Homo sapiens: one gene and its partners. The protein of the gene in region 1 interacts with the protein of each later gene in a pairwise test. Each region holds a gene or a part of one and is shown on either strand. Other genes may lie near its edges.

What was found. The genes of interacting proteins can lie anywhere in the genome.
Region 2: the proteins of KRT15 (region 1) and TCHP interact in binary tests that used the Homo sapiens proteins (3 or more experiments, as listed by UniProt).
Region 3: the proteins of KRT15 (region 1) and PPP1R18 interact in binary tests that used the Homo sapiens proteins (3 or more experiments, as listed by UniProt).

The regions. Positions count from the first base shown.
Region 1 is NC_000017.11:41,515,671-41,523,825, reverse strand, and holds the start of KRT15 (keratin, type I cytoskeletal 15), read left to right. Parts: upstream 1-4,935; 5' UTR 4,936-4,998; coding exon 4,999-5,496; intron 5,497-6,608; exon of another isoform or gene 6,609-6,660; coding exon 6,661-6,743; intron 6,744-6,861; coding exon 6,862-7,018; intron 7,019-7,539; coding exon of another isoform or gene 7,540-7,560; coding exon 7,561-7,722; intron 7,723-7,815; coding exon 7,816-7,941; intron 7,942-8,133; coding exon 8,134-8,155. Other genes in the region: KRT19 (keratin, type I cytoskeletal 19), read left to right, coding at 1-83.
Region 2 is NC_000012.12:109,910,274-109,917,534, reverse strand, and holds part of TCHP (trichoplein keratin filament-binding protein), read right to left. Parts: intron 6,473-7,261; coding exon 6,300-6,472; intron 4,545-6,299; coding exon 4,463-4,544; intron 3,094-4,462; coding exon 2,908-3,093; intron 2,133-2,907; coding exon 1,989-2,132; intron 945-1,988; coding exon 912-944; 3' UTR 1-911. UniProt on the Homo sapiens protein: Tumor suppressor which has the ability to inhibit cell growth and be pro-apoptotic during cell stress. Inhibits cell growth in bladder and prostate cancer cells by a down-regulation of HSPB1 by inhibiting its phosphorylation.
Region 3 is NC_000006.12:30,683,385-30,690,863, forward strand, and holds the start of PPP1R18 (phostensin), read right to left. Parts: upstream 3,262-7,479; 5' UTR 2,663-3,261; coding exon of another isoform or gene 2,635-2,662; coding exon 1,024-2,634; intron 1-1,023. Other genes in the region: NRM (nurim), read right to left, coding at 5,277-5,558, 5,892-6,086, 6,663-6,859, 7,458-7,479.

The DNA.
Region 1 (8,155 bases):
AGCAGGAGATTGCCACCTACCGCAGCCTGCTCGAGGGACAGGAAGATCACTACAACAATTTGTCTGCCTCCAAGGTCCTCTGAGGCAGCAGGCTCTGGGGCTTCTGCTGTCCTTTGGAGGGTGTCTTCTGGGTAGAGGGATGGGAAGGAAGGGACCCTTACCCCCGGCTCTTCTCCTGACCTGCCAATAAAAATTTATGGTCCAAGGGAGGAAGGACGTTTGGTTTATTATTTCAGCCCATGGAGAGAATAGGTCGTTCGGTTTGTTATTTGAGCCCATGGAGAGATGGGTCCTGCCTTGGCCCTGTTTAGGTTTTATTTGAACCAAAGTTCACTCTGTCCCAGGAAAGGGAGGGGAGGGTACTCACATACTTTGCCTGTAATGGTAATTCCTGTTTACAGAAGTCTTCATTTATTTAACCCGTTCCTTAAAATAACCTCATGAAATAAGCATTGCTTCCATTTTACAAAAGTAAACTAAGGCTCAGAGAGGTGAAGTGTTTTTTTCTATATGTAACTGCTCTAATGCATGGCAAAGGTGGGATTTGAAATTGTTTTTGCTTCTAGATTTAGTTTTCTTTCTACTCTACTCCCCAGGGCGTTGAGGTATCTGTGTGAAATTAATGTTTATTGAACACCTACTATGTGCCATTGAATTAAAAACAGCCCTAAAAGGTAGTATGAGCTGCATGTTATAGATCAGGAAATAGGCTCAGAGAGGTTCAGTAACTTGTCCAAGGCCACACAGCAACTACATGGTAGAGCCAGGACTAGAACCTAAGTTGCCTGATTCTTAGCCCATGGTGCCAGCCCCTGCCAGGTGGTCTCCTGGAGTTGACGCCACTTGTGCCGGTCTTGCTGACATTCCAGTCTTGTGCCCTATGAAGGCTCAGGCCGGGGATCCCTAGGGGCAGTTCCTCCCGACACATTTCTCCACCTCACTGAAACTGGGGGTTTGGGGCCAGGCATCCCGCTTGGAGCAAGGCTGGGGAGGCTGTACCTGTCAGTGTGTGTTGTGTGTGTGCATGCACTAACACATTCACCCATTTTTGGGGCAGCCCTGCATAAGCCCTTTAACGCCCACCAGCCCATACCTGGGCCCAGAGCCCAGAATGGGACCCAGCAGTGACCCAGACCTCCCACAGAGACCCCAACCCTGGCTTGCCTGGGGCCTGCCCTGGGCCAGCAAAAGAACGAAGTCCCAGCTTCCTGGTACAACTCTGCCCTTGGGTAGGTATGGCCCTGCTCCTGTGGTTTACATCTCAGCTGCCAAGAACTGAGGCCAATTCAAGGTAAGGAAGAGGCCCCAAAAGAAGTCCCACTTCTTCCTGGTGGAGAGGTGAGGGCTGCAGGCCCAACCCTATGAGTGATGGGGGCAAGTGAGGGACACTAGTTCCACGCCCGCATGCTGCCAAATGTACTCAGCACCCTGCTAAGGAGGCTGGAGACCCCATCACGGCCATGGCAATCCCGAAGGAGGAGCTGTTTCAAGGTTGGTTATGAACATGTAACCCCAGAGCCCCGCTGCTGTAGCCTGGACTGGGACCCCCTTCTGCCCCCTCCCTAGCTGTCCTGTTCTGGCCTCCAGCACCCACAAACCACCACCCCCAACTTAACTTCTCAGGAAGCCTTGGAGCTGGAGGGAGAGGCCTGGCTGCACCCCCAGCTGGGACTGCCCAGAGGCGCTTGTCCCTGCCCATGAAAGCCTCCCTTGTCACAGCTGAAACCTTCCCTCTGCCTCAGGGGCCCCTGGAATGTGGCTGCGGGGCGGGGTCTGGGCCCACACAGGTGGGGCAGGTGACTGTCAGGTCTCAGGCCTGAGTGTCAGGAATGAAGCCTGCCTTTGTGTGTGCACAGTGCAGGGTGGGGCTGGACTGGGGACACTTTTCTGTCTCAGCCTGGAGACCTGGGATAGGAGGGAGAGGGGAGTGGGGAAGTTGAGGGGAGTGCCTTTACATCCTGCTGGTCATCGTGGCCACTTCAGTCTGTTGAGCATTTCCTGTGAGTCATCTTGCTCCAACTGAGAGTCAGGCTGAGCTGGAGTTATTTCCATTTTCCTGATTGGTAGACTAAGGCTCAGAGAGAGGAGGCGGCATTACCCAAAGCCGCACAGCTGGTAAATGGGAAAAGAGGGGTTTAAAGGTAAGTCTCTGGGCTCCAGGACACACCCCCTCTCCCTGGCATTTCCCTGGGGAACAGGAGAGGTGTGGGAGGGTTCTAAGGTTGTTGGAGACTTCATTCTCCTTGTGCCCTCAAATGCTCACTATGGCCCTGAGGGGAGTCTGTGTTAATGGCCTAAGTTTAAATCAGGAACCAGGCTCAGAGAGGCTGAGTCTCTTTCCACTGGGCTGCACTGCCTCATTCTAAGGAGAAAAGGCCAGCTCCACAGATGGCCCCATCTGGCTGCAGTGGGCAAAGGTCAGAAACTGGCACAGCATCCTGGGCAGGCTGCCTGGGGCAGGGCCCGGGGCTACAGCCTGGGCTGGGGCCAGACAGAGCTTTATCTTCGCAAGGCCATCCCACCTGGTGCTAATGAGGAGGCTCCGGGCCCCACCCAGATCTGGAGCTCACAGTAGCGGTTTGGACTGAAACCAGGGATTTGTGCGTGGGGCAGTGAGGGGGGCAGCTGCCGCCCCTGGCCTGGGCCTGAGAGTATAGAGAAAGCCACCTCGAGGGGCTGCTGGAGGAGAGTCAGGTGCAGAAGGGGATCTGGCTGGGGTCCAGCCCTTCCTCACCCTGGGGTGAAAGGCGAGTAATTGTTCTTGAGTTAATTGCTGGGGCCACAATGTCTGCAGAGGCTTTTAATGAGCTCTGGATGATCTGAGTTTGATTATTTTTCTTTCGGAGGAAAAGACAATACCCTCCCACCCATGAGACAATACCACACTGTCTGTGCCCAGCATTGGAGGCCAGGCTCACTGCGAAGATGGATGAGAAGGAACCCACCCCCAGCCTTGCTGGCTGGCAGTTCCCCTTGCCAGCCCAGCTCAGATGCAGGAATTTGGGGTCTGCAGGAAGGACTCTTTCCCTGTGCCCTGTTTGGTTGAGGGTGTGAGGACCTGTTTGAGTCCTGGCTTTGCCCCTTACCAGTGGTGCCACCTGGCACAAGTTGCTTCACCTCTCCAAGTTTCAATTTCATTCTTTCTGAATCTTGGGTGGGGGTCACCCTCTGTTGTGAGGATGAGAGGAGGTGATGGATGCAAAAGTGCTTTGTAAATCACAAAGTGCAGGGTAGAAGTAAAGGATTATGCTATTATAGCAAAATAAGAACCTAAGAACAACCTGCGTTGCCCCATAGGAGCTGGCTATGGAAGGTCGATGCCGTTGAGCCTAAGAACATGCTCAGGCTCACAGGGCATGTTCTGATGCCCAACGACAAAGCCCCTCCTGGTGAGGGCACTCAGGCGCAGGTGCCGGTCATGCACCCTGGCCCCTGCATGTCTGGCACCTGGGTGGGGATCCAGGAGGGGGCAGGATGGGGGCTCTTGGGCCACAGGGCTTCCCTGGAAGTGAGAGTTGAGAGCGCCCCTTGCCACAGGGAAACAGAGACTTAAAAAGGTAAATGTCCACAGTCTTACCATGGTAATTGGTAGGGTCAGGATTTGAACCCAGGCCTCACAGTCTTACCATGATAATTGATAAAGCCAGGATTCAAACCCGGGCCTGAGGGACTCCAGAGCCCTGTCCACTTCACCATGCTGCAACCTGGGCTAGGAATCCTCCTCCTGAGTTTCTGTAAGCCCTGGGGCCAGGTCCAGAGGGCTGAGCCACACCTCCAAGTGGCACTGCCCACAGGTATCAGGTGTCCCTGGAAAGGTGTCCCTGAGCTGGTGGCAGAGAAAAGGGCTCTCCTGAGTGTTCAACTCCCCGTCTGTGTGAAGCAATGCCTTGGTCTTCAAGATCTCCGGTGTCTTCCAGCCTGCCTGCCAGTCTCCCTTCTCTTCCCTTCCACAGCATTCAGGCACATAGAGCCTTCTGCAGCGGCCCGTCCCCAGCCAGCACTTGACAGGACAGATGGGGGCTAATCTGGCCCTGCTAAGCAGCGACATGCCTCTCCTGGAGAAGGCAGGGGCTTCCTGGAACTTGCCCCAGCCTTATCAGCGGAGGTTTGCCCCAACACATCCCAGAAACGAGCAAAGGTTCAGCGCCGTGCAGTTGGCAGGTGTCGGGATCATCAGTCATCCCCTTGTCAGTCCCAAGCCTGCTGGGCTTTTGTGAGGGTGCCAGGAACACAGGCTGGAGGATGGCAGGAGGGGAGTAGAGGTGGGAGGAGGGGAGTCCATCTGCAGCACCAGGTAAGGGGATGGATGCTGGCTCCTCTGGTCACCTCAGCTGGAACACTACTCAAGGTCCCTGGCTCCTGTCCTCCACCTGCCCCCAGGGGCCCTGCATTCCCATCCCCAGGGCCTCCACTCTCCCTGAGCCCTGCAGTCTCTCACTCACTCACTCACTCACTCATTCACTCACTCACTCACTCACAGGGTTTTGAGTTGGATAACACAGCATAATGATCGGCCAGTGGACTCCCAAACTAAGAACACGGAGCTGTCCTCTTGGGGAGAGGCTCAGGGCTCGGGGAAGTGAAGTCCAGCTGAGGGCACAGTTGGCCTGAGCTGCTCTCAGTACAGGCAGAGGCCTTGGTAGCTGTGCTGTGATGAGAGTTCGCTCCCTGCTGCTCTCTTCTGGCATGGAGAGATGAACCTGTAATCCAAGTGTTAAAACCGTGCCCTGGGGAAAAACACTATTAATTCTGAATCATCTCTTTTGTTGCATTAAAAAAAAATAGAAGAGAAAAACTTCACATGACCCACTCAAGGTGTGCAGGCAGCTGTGTTTGTCAGGAAGGCAGAAGGAGTTGGCTTTGCTTTAGGGGAGGAGACGAGGTCCCACAACACCCTCTGAAGGGTATATAAGGAGCCCCAGCGTGCAGCCTGGCCTGGTACCTCCTGCCAGCATCTCTTGGGTTTGCTGAGAACTCACGGGCTCCAGCTACCTGGCCATGACCACCACATTTCTGCAAACTTCTTCCTCCACCTTTGGGGGTGGCTCAACCCGAGGGGGTTCCCTCCTGGCTGGGGGAGGTGGCTTTGGTGGGGGGAGTCTCTCTGGGGGAGGTGGAAGCCGAAGTATCTCAGCTTCTTCTGCTAGGTTTGTCTCTTCAGGGTCAGGAGGAGGATATGGGGGTGGCATGAGGGTCTGTGGCTTTGGTGGAGGGGCTGGTAGTGTTTTCGGTGGAGGCTTTGGAGGGGGCGTTGGTGGGGGTTTTGGTGGTGGCTTTGGTGGTGGCGATGGTGGTCTCCTCTCTGGCAATGAGAAAATTACCATGCAGAACCTCAATGACCGCCTGGCCTCCTACCTGGACAAGGTACGTGCCCTGGAGGAGGCCAATGCTGACCTGGAGGTGAAGATCCATGACTGGTACCAGAAGCAGACCCCAACCAGCCCAGAATGCGACTACAGCCAATACTTCAAGACCATTGAAGAGCTCCGGGACAAGGTGAGTCCTCGGATGTCAAAGAGAGGGGAGCAGGTGGCTGGTACCCTGTACACAGCTCTAATGTCAGTGTTACTGCTGACTCAAGGAAATCCTTTCCTGCCCAGGCAATGACTGTCTGGTATGTAATCTCAGCAAATTTGGAATGCACCTGCTGTCCAGGTGCAGAGGCCAGTGCACATCTTCTCAACTTGGTGGTGCTGGGGGAGGGAGAGAGGGGTCTTGGGAATCTGGTTAGGACCAACAGGGGCACAGGTGGGGGCAATTATAAAGAGCCAGAGGCAGTAGCTCACACCTGTAATCCCAGTGCTTTGGGGGGCCAAGGTGATAGGATTGCTCGTGTCCAGGATTTAGAGGCTGCAGTGAGCTATGACTGTGCCACTGCACTCCGGCCTAGGTGACAGAGTGGAACCTGTATCTAATTAAATAAAAATAATTAAAAAAAAAGAGCAACTCGCCCTCCCTACCTCATGCACCCTGCAGGCTTCTGCATAAAGTATTCCTTTACCTCTTTTGCAAGAATGGGATTGGAGTGTGGCCTCATGAGTTCCAGATGCTAGAACCTCTTGTCTTTTCCTATAAAGAGGTCTTTTGTGCCAAAAGTACTGTTGGGTCTTAGGAGACCTGGGAACTCATTACACATTCTGCCACCCACTCACTCACCATTTTACTCCCTAAGACTGGGTTCCTCATTCGTAAAATGCCTTCTTAACTGCCCTCCAGGTTGCTACTGGCTGGAATGTTCTGTAGATCCATGGCTGTGTCCAAGGTGTGCAGGAGGCAGTGACCATGAGTTGTCCACAGTGGGGCTGGTGGAGTGTCTCTGAGAGAGCTATTGTCAGAGCTGGCTGCACCCCACTGCCCCACTCTCCTGGGCAACCAATTCCCACAGGCAATACTGCCTCCTTGGTCTTTCGTGCCCTGGAGATAAGGAAGGCAGCTCCTCAGGTGTCTCAAGGAGGCTGGATGGGACAAAACAAGAAATGGACACTGAAAGTGAGGCTGGACTTTGCCCACCCCAGAAGCCGTACAGATTTTTGTTGGTGGTGTCAGAGGGGTGATTGTCAGTGAGGGGTGATTTTCAATGAGGGGCTGGCCTTGGGTGCAGAGCAGAGAGCAGCAGGGGAGAGAGAGGAGTCCTCTAGACACCGACTCTGTCTCCTGCAGATCATGGCCACCACCATCGACAACTCCCGGGTCATCCTGGAGATCGACAATGCCAGGCTGGCTGCGGACGACTTCAGGCTCAAGTGCGCTCCCCCGTCTCTCTCCTCTTCCTGCATTGCCCACTTTACTTGGCCTTCTCCTGGCTCTGACTCAGGCAGCCAAGACCCCTCCCACTTCCTTCTTTGGCCTCCCTCTCCTCAGGTATGAGAATGAGCTGGCCCTGCGCCAGGGCGTTGAGGCTGACATCAACGGCTTGCGCCGAGTCCTGGATGAGCTGACCCTGGCCAGGACTGACCTGGAGATGCAGATCGAGGGCCTGAATGAGGAGCTAGCCTACCTGAAGAAGAACCACGAAGAGGTGAGAGCTGGCCCCCATCACCCCTGAACCCGAGAGAGGTGGGGAACCTCTTCCCAAAACTCACTTAAATTGCCCAGAGGGAAAGACAGTGGCTCCAGGAAGCCCTCCCAGATTTTCACGAGATTAAGTCAGTGGGAGGCAGAGTGGGGCTGTTGGTACTTCCTCATAGTTGGCCTGGGGCTTAGTGGTTCAGAAACACACCTACCCCACAAAACCAGGTGTCCTCATGGAGAGGAAGGGGCAGTGTCTGGTAGCCCAGGCCCACAGCCAGCCCAGGTGGCCCGTATGAATGGTTGACTTCCTGATTGGCTTTGTGAGCTCACATCAGGGCCCTACAGTCTCGGGGTCCTCCCTTGGTAGGACCTAGAGCAGCAGAGAACTCCTTAGAGCTGAGGGGTCCATGTGACCAAACCTCTTCATGTGCAATGGGGAACAGCGGTTGGGGTGTGTTACGGGCAGAGCCAGGATTGGCATGTGTGACGCCAGACTCTCAGGTCTCTCTTCTGCTCTCCGTCTCTAAGTGGGTCCCTCCCATCCTGCAGGAGATGAAGGAGTTCAGCAGCCAGCTGGCCGGCCAGGTCAATGTGGAGATGGACGCAGCACCGGGTGTGGACCTGACCCGTGTGCTGGCAGAGATGAGGGAGCAGTACGAGGCCATGGCGGAGAAGAACCGCCGGGATGTCGAGGCCTGGTTCTTCAGCAAGGTGGGCCTTATATCCTGCCCTGCCCTTCCTGCCCCAGGTCCCTGAGTCTCCGAGGAGGCCCCGGGGCTCACTTCTGTTGTGCATGACCTACAGACTGAGGAGCTGAACAAAGAGGTGGCCTCCAACACAGAAATGATCCAGACCAGCAAGACGGAGATCACAGACCTGAGACGCACGATGCAGGAGCTGGAGATCGAGCTGCAGTCCCAGCTCAGCATGGTACGGCCACTCGCGCCCCATCCCAGCCTCTCGGGTGGTAGAAGCTCCCACTCTTCCTGGCTATTTAAGCCTTGGAGTTCTCAAGCCCCCTCAAGAGGTGGTTCCCTGAACTCCATTCAGTGCCCCCTCCCTGCTTGCCCTCAGTGGCTTCCTTTCTAGCCTGATGTGTCTATGCATCTGTCACTCCCCCAGAAAGCTGGGCTGGAGAACTCAC
Region 2 (7,261 bases), on another chromosome or scaffold:
GACATTCCCAATGTGTCCTACGTGTCACGCCCCTGCCTTTAAAAGGTTAGCCAACCAGGTGACCTTCTAAGGTACCTTTTTGGTTTTAGAGATGGGGTCTCACTCTTTTGCCCAGGTTGGACTCGAACTCCTGGGCTCAAGCAATCCTCTTGCCGCAGCCTCCCGGGTAGCTGGGACTAAAGGCACGTGCCACCACACCCAGTTTGAAGTTCGTTTTGGGGCTTAGTAACATACATGTTGGGATCAGTCACTCACAGACAATGCTCTATGGAAATTCTACCAAAATGCTTCCTGGAGGAGGAAAGACTCATCTCTTGCCACTTTTCTGGAATGCGTCCATGGACGTCAGAGTGTTCCGGGGTTCTAATTTGTTCACAGTTCTTTTCTTCCAGAATATAAAAGATGTAATACTTTTGGGACCACTAAATTAATAAACTCTGAAATCAACTGCACCAAGACCTCTAGGTTTGTTTTTAATAGACTAAATTTAAATGGCAATTTTAAAAACTGAAAAGCTTTCCTCATATTTCTAGAGTCAACACTGGAGGTTGACAATTAAAGGTGAGACAACAGGAAACCACACGCCCCATCACAGGTACAACCTGTGGCTCTTAGTATTGACCTTCAGTTGATGTGACTGTTAATATATTACAAGACTATGCAGCAGCGCTGTAAACACGTGCCCATCAAAGACCCTTGCTTGGGTAAGAAAGGCATGAAAGGGACTCTCACGACACCTTAATGTCTGGCCAAACACTGGGATGTTTCAATGATGAACCTGAGCAGGCACTGCTGAGCCATCTGACAGTGCCCCGGGCACTTACTGTTAACAGAGCCCTGTAAAACTGCCTGGCGGCTGGGATCAGAAGCCTCAGCATCCCTTGTTCTCTGTACTTATGGTACCCATGAAGTCAGTTCCAAGCAATTTTTGGATGTCCGTAAGGCTGAGAAAAGAAAGAAAACATAAGAGTGATCAGATCAGCAGTATCTGCAGCATGAGGAATTAACCTTGTTTTAACTACAAGCTAAAAGAACAATATAAATGGCTGTTTCATTTCCAGCTGAAAAAATCTGACCCTAAGCCATAAATGAGGCACTTGATATCTTTTTGGTTTTGAGTACTAGCCCTAAGAAACACTTTCACATATGATCTGTGAAACCCTGACCCTGACACTCTCACTGATCCACGGCCAAGTGGGTTTAGGAAATGCTGTTCCCTGTGACTGTGACAGTCAGTGTTTGAGGGCGAGTGGCCTATGGCAAACGCAGCACCTGCTCTAATTATGTTTCACTCAGTTTCCCAGTGTCATCTGACCACAAGGGAGCCAGCCCTCATTCTGCAGCATGTGTCCTGGGGAATGCACTCTAGGCACCGGGTGGCCAGGGTGGCCCTAGGTAAAGGAGGGCAGAGGGGACAAGCCAGCAGTGGAGGTGCTTCAGTCATCAGCTTCCTCAGGGCAGGGAAGGCAGCATTTGCTTCTCTGTGCTCCCCATGGTGCTGTGCAGACAGGTCCGGGAACAAAGACACTGAGAGGCAGAGAAACAGATACACACACGGGAGGGAGGGGAGGAAGAGGACACCCACAGGAGGGAGGGAGGGGAGGTGAGGAGGAGGACTGGTCTCTTGTTCATCGGGCTTCACTGTCTCAACAGTTGAGGCCTAGATCTACTGCTCTGACCCCTCTCAGCAGCTGTGGCCACAGCTCTTCTTAGATTGACCAAAGAGGGTGGACAGGCATGCAGCTTAGTAGGCAAGGCCAGAGCAAAATCACTTCAAGGTTTGAGGCCCAACCAAGGACTGGAACAGCCCCTGTGTCAGGGCTCCCTGCTGGTCAGGGAAGAGAGAAATACAAGAGAAGAGAAACAAGGAATAACCCGGACGGCCGGAGAGCAGACCCCGGCGCGGGGCGATGAGCAGGCCCAGGGGAGCAGGGGCCGGGCAGAGTCTGTCTTGCCGGTGTTGGCCTATATCCTGGCAGACTTCCTACCTTAGGCCGGTAGCCCTGCTCAGCCATAGTCTCCGCCTCCTGCTGCAGCAGGGCATCTGAGAGCTGCTCGACCCGCCGGGCCTCCTCCTCTTCCTCCTCCTCCTGCTGGTCTGCTTCCCATGCCTGCAGCCGGCGCTCTGCAACCTGAGTGCCAAGAGCAAAGTCACCACCCCAAGACAAGGCCCACAGGGCAGAGCCCTGCCTCTGATGAGGAAGGTAAGCCTGCGGCCCTACCCAGACTGGAGAATCCAGCTGAGCAACAGCAATGCACGTGCCAAGGAACGGAAGGGAGCATGCGGGACTTGAAAGGCTGTATGCATGGTGTGTACCTCATAGAAAGCTGGAGAGGCTGTATGCGTGGCGCTTACCTCGTGGAAAGCTGGAGAGGCTGTATGCGTGGCGTGTACCTCGTGGAAAGCTGGAGAGGCTGTATGCATTGTGTGTACCTGGTAGAAAGCTGGAGAGGCTGTATGCATGGCATGTACCTCGTAGAAAGCTGGAGAGGCTGTATGCGTGGCGTGTACCTCATGGAAAGCTGGAGAGGCTATACATATGCGTGGCGTGTACCTCGTGAAAAGCTCGGCCTGTGGCCAGGTGTTTGGAGGACTGTTCTGTCTTATGTATCAGGGACTGAAATGAAGAGAGATCTATGGCCCCCGGTAAGCCAACTGCTTGCAGAAGCAGACAGAGTAAAGAGAACAGACAGCAGTACCGGCCTCACCCACACGACATGGAGGATGTGGAGGGAAAGAAGCCACAGTCAAGAGGATGAGGACTGCAGCTGGGATGGAAACGGGAGCACCGTGCTCTCAAACGTGCGCAAGCCCTGCCAGGCAGTCCAGCGGCTCTGAACCCTGTCCCATGATGATGCAGAGAACCTGGCAGGCCCGGTGCCTCCCGCCCTTGGGCTCAGCCCTACCTGGGCTTCCAGCTCCTGCTTCCTGGCCGATTTCAGCTTTTCACTCTCCTCTTTCTCGCGACGAGCCAACTCTCTCACCTCCTCAAGATTTCGAATAAGTTGCTCCCTGTGTTTCAGGGATTCCTCTTGTGCCCGTCGGTTCTGCTCAATCTTCTCTTGTATTTGCTGTTGTCTCCCTGTCAGAACCTAACCTCAGCAGAAAGAAAAGGGCAGCTTTGAGGTTGACCCTAACAGATCCTGGTTCTACAAGCCTTGGACAGGCTGCAGCCACAGCAAGGCCCAGCCTCATCCTTGGGCCTCAGGCCCAGGTACGCAGAGGCAGAGCCAGATGACAGGATTTGCTCTCACGATGTCGGCCACGCTTGCCAGTATACAAGAAATGTTTCCCTCGCAACCCAAGACACACAAAATGTATCCAGACTGTGTACTATGGAGAGACAGCTGAGTGCCAAAGAAATCAAAGGAGATGGGGATGGAGCTGTCTCCCCGGGGCCAGAGAAACCTTGGAGCAACAAGGTGAGTCTCCTTCCTATCAGCGGGTTCCAAAAACAAGAGAGCCACAAGCCACACAGATGACCAGAGGTGGAGCTGGGGTGGTCCTCTAACCTTTTGAACCTGCTGTGTTTGAGACCTGGCCCCAGAGCCGTGTGACATCTGAACTCCAGCCCAGGCCACAGTCAGGAGCAGAAAACCACCTGACACTCTCAACAGTTAGGCTGCAGGGCTGGGGGGAACAGAAAGTGGCCGCCATCAGGAGGGAAATTTAAATGAGGAAAATCAAAAGGCACTGGAGAATTCTTGGTATTTACAAGAGCAAAACATCACCAATCACGACCCAATTTCCTGTGGATTCCAAAATACAGCATACTACCAGACACAACGTAGAGTTTCTCATTTGAAACCACTTTACAACAGCTTTCAGCCCATGGGTAACACTCTCTCTTCTCCTCCCAGATTTCTCTGCGGTTGGGGTATATCTTCCACGCACAGTGTACACACTGACCAGGAAAGCAGTTATGTCCTCCAGGTCACGGCTGTCATCTACCCCGAGGGGGGAAACGTGTGGGAAGAGCCTCAGGCACCAAGAGGCTCTCTGCAGCGTTTCTCAGAATGGCTTCCAATTAGAACAACACAGCACACCCATAAGAGGGAATGGAAAGGCAGCGGGTGACAGAGGACAGTCCGTGATACAGCCCCTGACATGCCGTTTATAAAGATGTAACAGCATGTCACAACGCTTGAAGCCAAATAGCACAAGACAGTAAGAAATACATGTAGAAAAAATGTCAGGCATAGAAACAGAAGAGCAGACAGAAGCAGCAGCTACGGCTGCATACAGGATGGGCTCTGGGGGACTTTTTTCCATTTCTACTTCCTGTACTTCTGAATTCTTTTCTACTAAGCTCATATTACTTTTTCAATGATTTTTAAAGCCCACTTAAAATGACCAGAGAAGACTCTGTTCCCAGAGCATCTGGCAGGGTGACTGACCATGGACTTCCAGACACCTGCCCAAGACCCAACAGCCGGTCCACATCGCCGCAGCTGGGATTACCTCGCTCATCAGTCTGTCCCGTGCGCTGCGCTCTCGGGCCCACTCTGCCTCTCTCTTTTCCCACATCTCCTTGGCCTCCTCCCTGGGCAAACACAAAAGGGATGACAGCAGGCTCCTCCCCGCCCTGGCAGGAAGCGAGCTACGGAACAGACAGGGCTGCAGGGCACATGGCTTCTGCAGGACCACACTGCAGATAAACATCCACATGCACTTTGAAAAGATTACAATTAAGGACAGCATCCACGGAAAGTACTGTTGGAAGTTTTTCATTTTTTTTATTTTTGAGATGGGTCTCGCTCTGTTGCCCAGGCTAGAGTGCAGTGGTGCGATCTCGGCTCACTGCAACCTCCACCTCCCAGGTTCAATCGATTCTAGTACCTCAGTCTCCTGAGTAGCTGGGATTACAGGCATGTGCCACCATGTCTGGCCAATTACTGTATTTTTAGTAGAGACAGGGTTTCACCATGTTGGTCAGGCTGGTCTTGAACTCCTGATCTCAAGTGATCTACCTGCTTTGGCCTCCCAAAGTGCTGGGATTACAAGCGTGAGCCACCGTGCCTGGCCCTGTTGGAAGTATTTTAAGTTACCCTTTTAATACCCCATCTCCTTATAAAAAGGAATTGGGATGACTTACACCGTGGCTGTTTAACACAGAGATGAATGAAACCATCAGAACATGGAGAGGAGGGCGCTGCCTGTGCCTGAACCCTGCCACCGCATGCCTGTGTCACTGATAGCTCACCCTGGACGGAGTGACCTCTTCAAGTCTCCGGGTCTCACAAGCCACCACTTGGCTGGATGTCAGGACTCAGTAAGATGAGGCCTGTAAAGCACCCGGCACAGTGTCCAGCATGCAGTAAGTGCTCAATGTATGCTACTTATTATTTGATGATTTCAATCTACTAGTTTAGTCTTTAGGACCCAAACTCAGTTTTATAGATGTAAGCAGCATTCAACATCTCTATAATAACTTCCTTCTGGCTGGGCATAGTGGCTCACGCCTGTAATCCCAGCACTTTGGGAGGCCAACGCTGGCGGATCACAAGGTCAGGAGTTCAAGACCAGCCTGGCCAAGATGGTGAAACCCCATCTCTACTAAAAATACAAAAAGTAGCCGGGTGTGGTGGCGGGCGCCTGTAATCCCAGCTACTCGGGAGGCTGAGGCAGAGAATTACTTGAACCCAGGAGGCAGAGATTGCAGTCAGCCGAGATCATGCCACTGCACTCCAGCCTGGGTGACAGAGCAAGACTCTATCTCAAAAAAAAAAAAATAATTTCCTTCTAAACCTCTAAGATTTCAGATGAACACATCGTTACTCTAAACCTTAATGATTTCCACCTCAGATAATACAAGGGAAACACCCCCAGAGGCCAGGTCCATTATGAAGATGTGCTCCTCAGGAATGATGGACAACATACACAGCTATCTCTTCTTCTTCTTTTTTTTTTTTTTTTTTTTTTGAGACAGAGTCTCGTTCTGTCACCCAGGCTGGAGTGCAGTGGTGTAGTCATGGCTAATCGGAGCCCCAACCTCCTGGGCTCAAGTGATCCTCCCACTTAGCCTCCCGAGTAGTTGGAACTACAGGTATGAACAACCACGCCTGGCCAATTTGTGTATTTTTGGTAGAGCCTGGAGTTTTGCCATGTTGCCCAGGCTGATCTCAAATTCCTAGGCTCAAGCGATCCACCTGCCTCGGCCTCTCAAAGTGCTAGGATTACAGGTGTGAGCCTCCACGCCCAGCCAATAGATATTTCAGTAACAGGTGACCCATGGGGCATTTCAAGGTATCAGAGTTGAGGCCAGGAGCATCCAGCCCAGTCAGCAGCTGCCACTCACCTCAGCAGCATCTGCAGCTCTGCCTCCCGCGCCCGCTCCAGCTGCAGCTGCTCCTCAATGGCCTGCTTCATCCAGGCCACATCGGCCATGACCTGCTCCCGCCTGGCCAGGTGGAGGCGCTGGCTCTCGTCCTCCTTCTCGAGGAGGGCCTGCAGGATCCGCCTGTCTGCCTCCTAGAGGAAGCAGAGGGCGGCACGTGGCTGGGCTGGACAGAGTCCTTCTGCAATGAGAGCCTACAGAGGGGCCTGCCCTCCCTTTCCTTTCTACATAGACATTCGTGATTCTACACAGTGTTCTCAAGACAGAGATGGGAAGATCCTGGATTATTTCTGGAACAGACTGGGGATAATCACGAGGGGTGGTTCAGACACTGCACAGGCCTAGGAGCTTCTCTCTGGCTAAAGGGAGACCCAGCCACCACCACATGCCCTCGGATACACCTGGTTGCACAACTTTTTGGAATACAACTTGGCAAAAATCCCACTTATAAGAACAAAGACCACAGTGACACAAAAGTGCAAAACACTCGTTGCAGCTTTTAGGTAAGAGGGAAAAACCAGAAACAACCAAAATGCTCCTTGGTGGGGAATTAGCTACTATGTACATCAACATAATGGAAGCATTAAAATAATGCAGGAGGCTGGGCACTGGGGCTAATGCATGCAATCCCAGCACTTTGGGAGGCTGAGGTGGGAGGATCACTTGGGCCTAGGAGTTCAAGACCAGCCTGGGCAATGTAGCAAGACCCCATCTCTACAAAGCATTGTGATGTACACCTATGGTCCCAGCTACTCGAGAGGCTGAGGTGGGAGGATGGCTTGAGCCTGGCAGGTTGAGGCTGCAGTGAGCCGTGATTGCGCCATTGCAATCCAGCCTGGACAACAGAGCAAGACCCCATAAAAAACAGCTGCACACCAGGACCAACCATGCCACTGTGCCCCATGTCCTGCCCTGACCGCAGT
Region 3 (7,479 bases), on another chromosome or scaffold:
CACTTTCCTGCAGGTCTTTGTTGCAAGTCTAACCTCTGACCCTCTGCTGGCCTCAGCCCCAACCCCTGTCCAGAACTCCCACTGTGCTCCCTGGCCAGTGCCTGTTCTCAAAACTGTCTCCAAATTCACTTCTCTCTTTTGCTACCCTAAGGGGAGGGAAAGTCCAGGATGGCAGGAAAAGAGGGGAAAACCGATCCCTGAGCCAGTTCTTGGGAGGGAGGGGAAACCCAGGGAGGAAGGACAGGGGAGTGAGGGGCGGGGGTATTTTGGAAGAGGAGAAGGCTTTTCTTGTCCCAAGAGAGAAGGGAGCACTGTCTGAAGCAGTGGCCCAGCTGGGGGTGTGCAACCCCGAGGTCACCCACTTCAAATGGCCTCTCTGTGTCTCTCCCATGGGGCAGACTCGGGGTTCAAAAGCCTTCTCTCTGATCTTTGGCCGGCCCGGTTCCATCTCCCCTCTCCCCTCCATCCTAGGATGTCCCTATTCAGCTCTGCCCTCCTTCCCACGGGGCAGTTGGACCTTTCTCCATTCACTTCTCCCTGCAGTTTCTCCCTAGAACACAAACCCACCCCACCCCCTCCACCACCCCAGGCTCCCTATCCCTTCTCCCCAGAAAAACTGCAAGTGCTCTCACCCTGGTGACCCTGCCCTCACTGATTCAAGCTCGTCACTTTAGGCTCTCCCACTGGATGGGCTGGGGCAGGTCACACTCAGGAAAGGAAGGAAAGAAAAGGGGGTTGGAAACTCAGAGCCCAAGGGAAGGGAGAATGAGCAGCCTGGCACACCCTGAAAGAGACACACCCAGAGACAGCCTTTGCTGGGGCAGGATCTTTTGGGCTCAAAATGGAAAAGGAGGGCTCTGAGAAGGAAGGGTGTATGTGCAGAGCGAGGAAGGGTGGTGGCAGGAATTAACAAGAAAGAATAGAGGAAGACAAGAAAACAGGGGTATAAAAAAGAAAGAGACCAGAGTCCAGAGAAAATTGACAAGTGGACTTCTAAGAAGTCTGGCTTGGCTGCTTCCCTACCTGTTTGTGGTGTCTTTCGGGGGACCCCTTGGCAAGGCAGCTGCGGCTGAGACGGAGGTAGCCCCCCAGAACCAAGATCTCCTCGGCAGTTGGGTACCGCTTCTTCCCAGCCCCCGGGACTGCAGCATCAACTGTGGCTGGAGAGGTTGGGGTGGCTGGGGTCGCAGGGGGCACAGACCGCCGGGGGTTGACGGTGAAGGTGTGTCCACTGCGGCGGGGGGCCCCCACCCCTGGCCCTGCCTTCACCCCATAGAACAGGCGGCTCATGAGGGGATCCCCAGGAGGTTGGGGGGCAGTTGGGGCTGGGGGTGGGGGAGACAGAGGGGCTGGTGGTGGGGGCTGGAGCTCCACTGCTTCCTCTTCCTGCTGTCTCAGGCCTCCAGTCCCAGCGTCCTCTGGTGGGAGGGGGGAGGGCACAGAGCAGCAGTTCTGCAGGGCTCTCAGAGGCCTGCCCTGAGCCCCCGCCTCCTCCTTCTCAGCCTCCCCTTCTCCAGCCTCCACACCGGGAGATTCCAGAAGCTTCTCTGCTGACTCTGGAGGTTCTGGTTTCTGAGTTTGAGCCTCTATGTCCCTGGGTGTCCATTCTCGAGCCTTCCCGGAGTTCAGGGTCCATTTCCACCCTTCTGTTGGCTTCATGCCCCTCTCGCCATCTTCCACAGGCCTCTGCTCTGCTGCCTCCACTCCTGCGGAACTGTTGCCTTGGGCCTCCCTTGTCAGGGTCTCGGACAGCTCTGCAGTCTCTTTTGGAGCTACCCCTGGAACTGGCCACTCTTCTTTTCTCCCACATTCTTCCGAGTAGTCTTGTCTTTCTTCTCCTGACCTCAGCCTCCACTCTGTTGCCTCCAGTTGTACCAAACTCTGTTCCTGAGACTCTCTGGAGTCAGGTCTCCATTTATGGGCCTCTGTCAGGCCCAACTTCTGGTAGGCAGATTCCCCTGGGCTCAGTCTACTTTCCACCTCTTTTCTCCTGGGGCTTTGCTCTCGAGACTCTGCTAGTCTCAGACTCCGCTCTGGAGTTTCTCCAGGACTCAGCCTCCATTTCCATGCCTCTGACAGTCGGGAGCTCCTGTCTCCCACCTCTCCTGGGCTTTGCCTCCAGTCCCGAGCCTCCAGAGGCCTCAGGCTCAACTCTTGGGCTCCCCCTATCCCCAGCCTCCTCTCTCTGGTCTCCCTCGGACTTAGTCTCTCTTCTCTTGACTCTCTTCCCTTGGGGCTCTGATCCCGCATCTCCCCAGGGCTGGGTCTCCGCTCCCGGGCCTCCAGAGGCCCAGGCTTTCTCTCTGCTAGCAGCTCTTCACTCCGTTGTTGTTGCTGCTGCTGCTGCTGCCGCTCCTGCCGGATGAATCGGTTCTGGTGCACTGGCCCGATGGCCTCCAGAAGGACCGCAGACTCATCCGGGTCTGGAGGTCCAGCCTCTACAGTCCCTAGCACAGGGCTAGGCTCCCCAGGGGACAGCCCAAGCTTGGCCCGGCGGCGCTCCAGGAGCCCTCGTTTCCAGGCTGGCATCTGGGACAGGCGCTCCCGTTCTGCTTTCTCTCGGCCTCGAACGGACGCCTCCTCCTGCCGGCGCCGGGCTAGCAGCTGTAGCTTCCAGTCTGGGATGGTGGCCATGGTCGTCTTGAGGTGAGGGTAGGGAGCACTGGGGACAGAGAACAGGAAGGAGAGGCTCCAGAGAGTGAGACAGCCCGGGGGTGAGACTGAGGGTGGGAGGAGAGGAAGTGGAGGGGGAGAGGTGGGACACAAAGCAGGGCAGAGGGGCTAAGGATGAGGACAGAGGGAAAGACGGAAGGCAGAGAACTGGGGAAATGGAAAAAGTGAAGAGAAGTTGTGAGCCCAAGTTGGGGGTGGTGGGGGTGATGTGAGAGGAAGAGTCCGGATTGGAGGCAATGAGGGCAGGAGCCAGATGTGGCAGCACAGGGTTAATGCGTATTAAAGACCGTCTCTAGGATGTGAGAAAGAGAGAGAAGGGCGAAAAGGAAAGTTGGCGTGAGGGAGAAGAGAGAAATGTGGCAGGGGTGAGGGGAACCTGGGTGCAGGCCAGGCTGCCTCAGCGATACCCCAGGGAGGCTAGTGTGGGAAGGAAGGACCAGGAATCCCTGAAAGGACCAGGAGGCAACGGGACCTGAGGGGGTGTTGGGGAGGCAAGGAGGGGCGGAGAGCGAACAGGTCTAGAGGAGAAGGGAAACCAGGGAAGAGGGGAAAGGAGGGCGGCGGCAGCAGCCGGGCGCGTCTCAGCGCGGGCCCCAAAGGTCCCGGCTCCGCTTCCAGCACCGCTCGGGCCACGCCTCTCCCCAGCCCCCACCCCTCTGCCCCGCACTCCGCCCCCGAGGCGGGTCGGGGGAAATAGCCACCCCCGAGACTTTCGGAACCCGGGCGTCAGGGCTGCCAGCGCGTTCCCAGAACCCTGGCGTCCACCCCCACCCTGTCCTGTCACCACCGCCTGCCTCCCCCACCGACTGCCCCACGCGACCCCAGAGTGCCAAGGGCCGGCTCCATGTCTCTTCTCCCCGGCGCCTGCAAGTCCTGCGCCCCGTCCCCGCTCTCATGAAGCCGTGACAGAGCCGGCCGTCTCCACCCCGCTGTAGCCGCACAGACTGACAATCTCGGCACAAAGAGGAGACAGCCAAGGTCCGGGCCAGGGACGGGAGCAAGGACAGGGGCGAGGAGACACCCACTCCCCAAGTCTGAGCCCCTCAGTCAACTCACAGGCCGCGGGACCCCCGGGGGAGGGGGTGCGGAGGAGCCGGGCGTCCAGAGAGAGGAAGAGGAGGAGAGAGGGACCGAGGGAGATCCGGAGACTGGAGGGAGGGGAGGAGGGAGGGAGAGGAGGAGGGAAAGAGGCAGCAAAGGAGGAGGGACGGAGACAGAGACCAGGGGGCCGGGCGGGGGCGGCGACCGCTTTGTCTAAGGACAATGAGGAGAGGGAAGGGGGCGCAGGGCGGAGCCGAGGAGAGGGCGGGGCCTAGATCCCTCCCACCCCGCGTGGGACTCGCTGCGGGACTGCCCTCTTCTCGCCCCAACCACTGGTCCTCCGCTCTGTCCCCAGGGGCCCTCACCAGCTTCCCGCCCGGACACGCCAGGTGTCCAGATCCCTTCCCCCAGCTCGCCGACCCAGGGCGGTGGCCCGTGACTCAGGCCCCTCGTGGGACTTTGGGAGGAAGCGGCAGCTGCTCCGAGCGGGGCCCGCCCTTCCCATCTCCTGCCGCTCCTCCCTACGCTTTTGCCTTCTCATCTGGGTCTGTAGGTCCAGCCTCTGAAGTCCTTTGTTTTGCGGGGTCGAGGGCAGCCGCCAGGCTGTGGGGGGCTTTGTGGATGGGCGGCAGGAGAGGCGCTCAGAAGCCAGAGGTTTTGGATGCTCCCTCCCCTACCAGAGCTGCTGCCCCGACTCTTTCTAGCTTCAACCTGTCTCCCTTGGGTCTACAGGTCGGCTGCCGGGAAAAAGGGGATTTGAAGGAATGGGAATGGGGACCCGGCCGCTCTGGCAAAGTGGGGGCGGGTCTGCGGGGGTGGCCGAACCCCAGCGGTTGCCAGAGGGCGTGGTGGCTGCCCAGACTCCAGTTCGGTGCTCCCAGGCTCCCTCTGGCTTTCTTTCCCAAACTCAGCCCTGTAGCTTGGGAGACACTGACAGACTGCATGCCATATGTAGAAAAAGGCTGACTTTTATTTTCCTGCAGAGCATCTTCCTCGGGAGAGCAGGGAGCCCCAAGTCATCGAGTTAAGAGCAGGAGAATCCCCTTGACTAGGTTGGGGTCTGAGCCCAGAGGCAGGGCCTAAGGAGGTGCAGAGACTAGGGCCGGGAGTGGTGAGGCAAGGTTGGGGCCTGGAGGGACAGCTATGACCGTTGAACTTGCAGACCCTGGTCCACCTTCTTGGAGTGGAAGCCAGCGGTGCAGAAGGGGACCCCTGAGGCGCAGAGGCAAGTAACAGTGCCAGGGGAGTGGTCAGGGCAGATCCTTTCCTTCTCAGGAGGCTGTTGAGGGGGAGAGTGTCATGCTCTAAACAGTGAAGGGACAGATGACTTCCATACCCCACTCTTCCTTGCTGGTGAGAAGTGGACCTTGGAGTTCAGTGGCTGAAACTCAGAATTTAGGGTATGGAGCTGGACCCAGAGAATAAAGTCTCAAGTAGTAGAAGGGGCATCTCCTTCAGTCCATGGATTTGGGCCTCTGGCATGAAGCAGCCAGGGCCTGGATGTTAAGGATTTAGAATTCAGTGGGAGAGGAAGAACAGGGCTTGTAACCAGAGTGAGCTCCTCACTCTGCCTCCCCATCCTGGGGCCGAGAGAGCAGGTGGAGTTTTCTTTGTAGCTGGGCCCGGAGGTAGCGGAGGTCTTGCTGATCAAGCCCGTGAGCCAGGCCCAGGTAGAGGGTAAGGAGGAAAGCAAGGAGGAGACGGTCCGTGCCCAGGGTAGGCACCACCCACAGCACTGTCAGCAGCTCCACACACACTGGGTGGCGCAGGTGGGAGAAGAGTCTGAGAGCCCGGGGAGACTTCAGGGCCAGAGGCTCGCCCAGCCCCAGCACATGGTAGTATACCTAAGAGAGGGAGAAGAGCTTAGAAATGGAGTCAAGCCCTTTTCTCATCTTGGGCACTTCTTTCCTCCTCTTCCAGGCACCACCCTTCTAGAACTCAGGCCCAGGAACCCCCCTTCTGAGACTTGGATCCCTGATCCTGACTTCTGATCCATGTACCTTCCCCAGGCCCAGGAGGCCCATGCTTGCTGCCCTTACGAGGGAAAGTCAAAGGGAAGGGCCACGAGGGAGAAGCAGGGAGACAGTAGAAGAGCATGGGAGGAGGGAAACCCTTGAAAGGGAACGAGGAGTTCTAAAATGGGTCAGAGGTCATAGGTAGGGATCTCGGAGCCTCACCTGTTTGAGGCCCATGAGCTCAGCATAGTCAAAGACGAGAAGGATGCTAAAGATGAGGAGCCAGGAGATGACATGGAGCACAAAGCAGAGGAGCGGCACCCAGGTGGCCCATGGCTCAGCCCGAGCCTCCCACAACACAGGGCCTTTGGGTATGGGCTCCCAGTACCGCATCACCAGCTGTGGAAGGATAAGGGGCTGGGTATCCCAGTGGCCTAGTCTGCCCGACCTTGGGAGACCCAGACCCAGATCTGCCCCCACCACAGGCTAGCCTGCAACTCTCCCCCACCTCTCTCCTAAGCATCACCACCAAATATTCACCATGTGGAGGGTGCGTGCTGGGTGAGGTCCCAAAGATGTAAGGATGGCCTGTCTCTACCCTGAGAACTTATAGAATAGATGGGGTGACCTGATAGCTACGCAAAGTAGTAGCCTGTGCCAACCACCCAGTGAAAAGACAGACAAGGCCTTCTCTTCAGACCTAGGGAAGTGGTTTTGAAGAAAGGGTAGGACTGAAGAGAAGGGATCTCAAGCAGGACATAAACAAAGTTGCAGAGGTGAGAAGCATATCTTGTGCTTAGGGAAGGACAAGTACACCCTTCTTGATAAAAAGTAGGATATGTGCTGTGGAGGAATGGAAGCTGAGATTAGTTCCTCAATTCTCCTCCTGAACCCATATTTTGCCCCTCCAATCCACGGCACCCCTCCCACACTTGGTCTCCCTTGGGGACTCAACTGCCAGGATTTCATACCTGCAAGGCCAGGGCCTCATACCTGCAAGGCCAGGGCAGTGCAGGCCACATACAGTGACCTCTGAAGGACCCCAAAGTACCGGGATGTCCATGCCTTCACTCTTTCAGCTGCCATGAGGCTGTGCTGCCCAACAAATAGAAGCAGGAGCCCCAGATCCCATGCCAGGGGGGCAAGGATGCTGCGGTCCTGCAGGGCAGCCAGCCATCCCTGGCGGGCATCTACAGGAAGTTGAGGGAAAAAGAGACAAAAGATCGAAACAGTGGCAGAATGTTTCCCCCACCCTCATCTCCTCTTGGATCCCCAGGCCATGTCCCTTACTGCTTTCAAGAGCCTTAATGCTTCCTCTCTAGGCTGTGCCCATCTCACTTTTCCATCCCTAGTTTCTGCCCTCTTCCCTAGGCCTCCTGCAAACCTGGGGAAGAGGATTTATAGAACACCACATGTTAGGCAGTTGCAAAAAGCATGGCTGGAGAGGCCACGCTGGATTGCCCCTCTTACTTCGGTTCTCCAAATGCTCCTTCTTTTTAACACTCTCCTCTCAACAGTCCTCTCTACAAAACACTTTACTTAGAATACTCCGGTCACCGCCCTTTTCGGCTCCCTCAGTCCTCACTCTCCCGCCTCTCCAAAACTCTAATCCTTGAGTTCCTAATTTAGAACTCAGGTCTCCCTCCCCTGTAGCTTCTCGGCCGCTTTCAAGGTTCGAGTTCCCTCTCTTGGACTTCCCCTGTCATTTGTTTCCAAGCCCCGCCCTCAATCCCTCTCCTACGGCTCCACCTTCCTCCTCCCAGTTCATCCTCGATCCCTCCCGCTCACCCGGACCACCAGACTCCGGGAT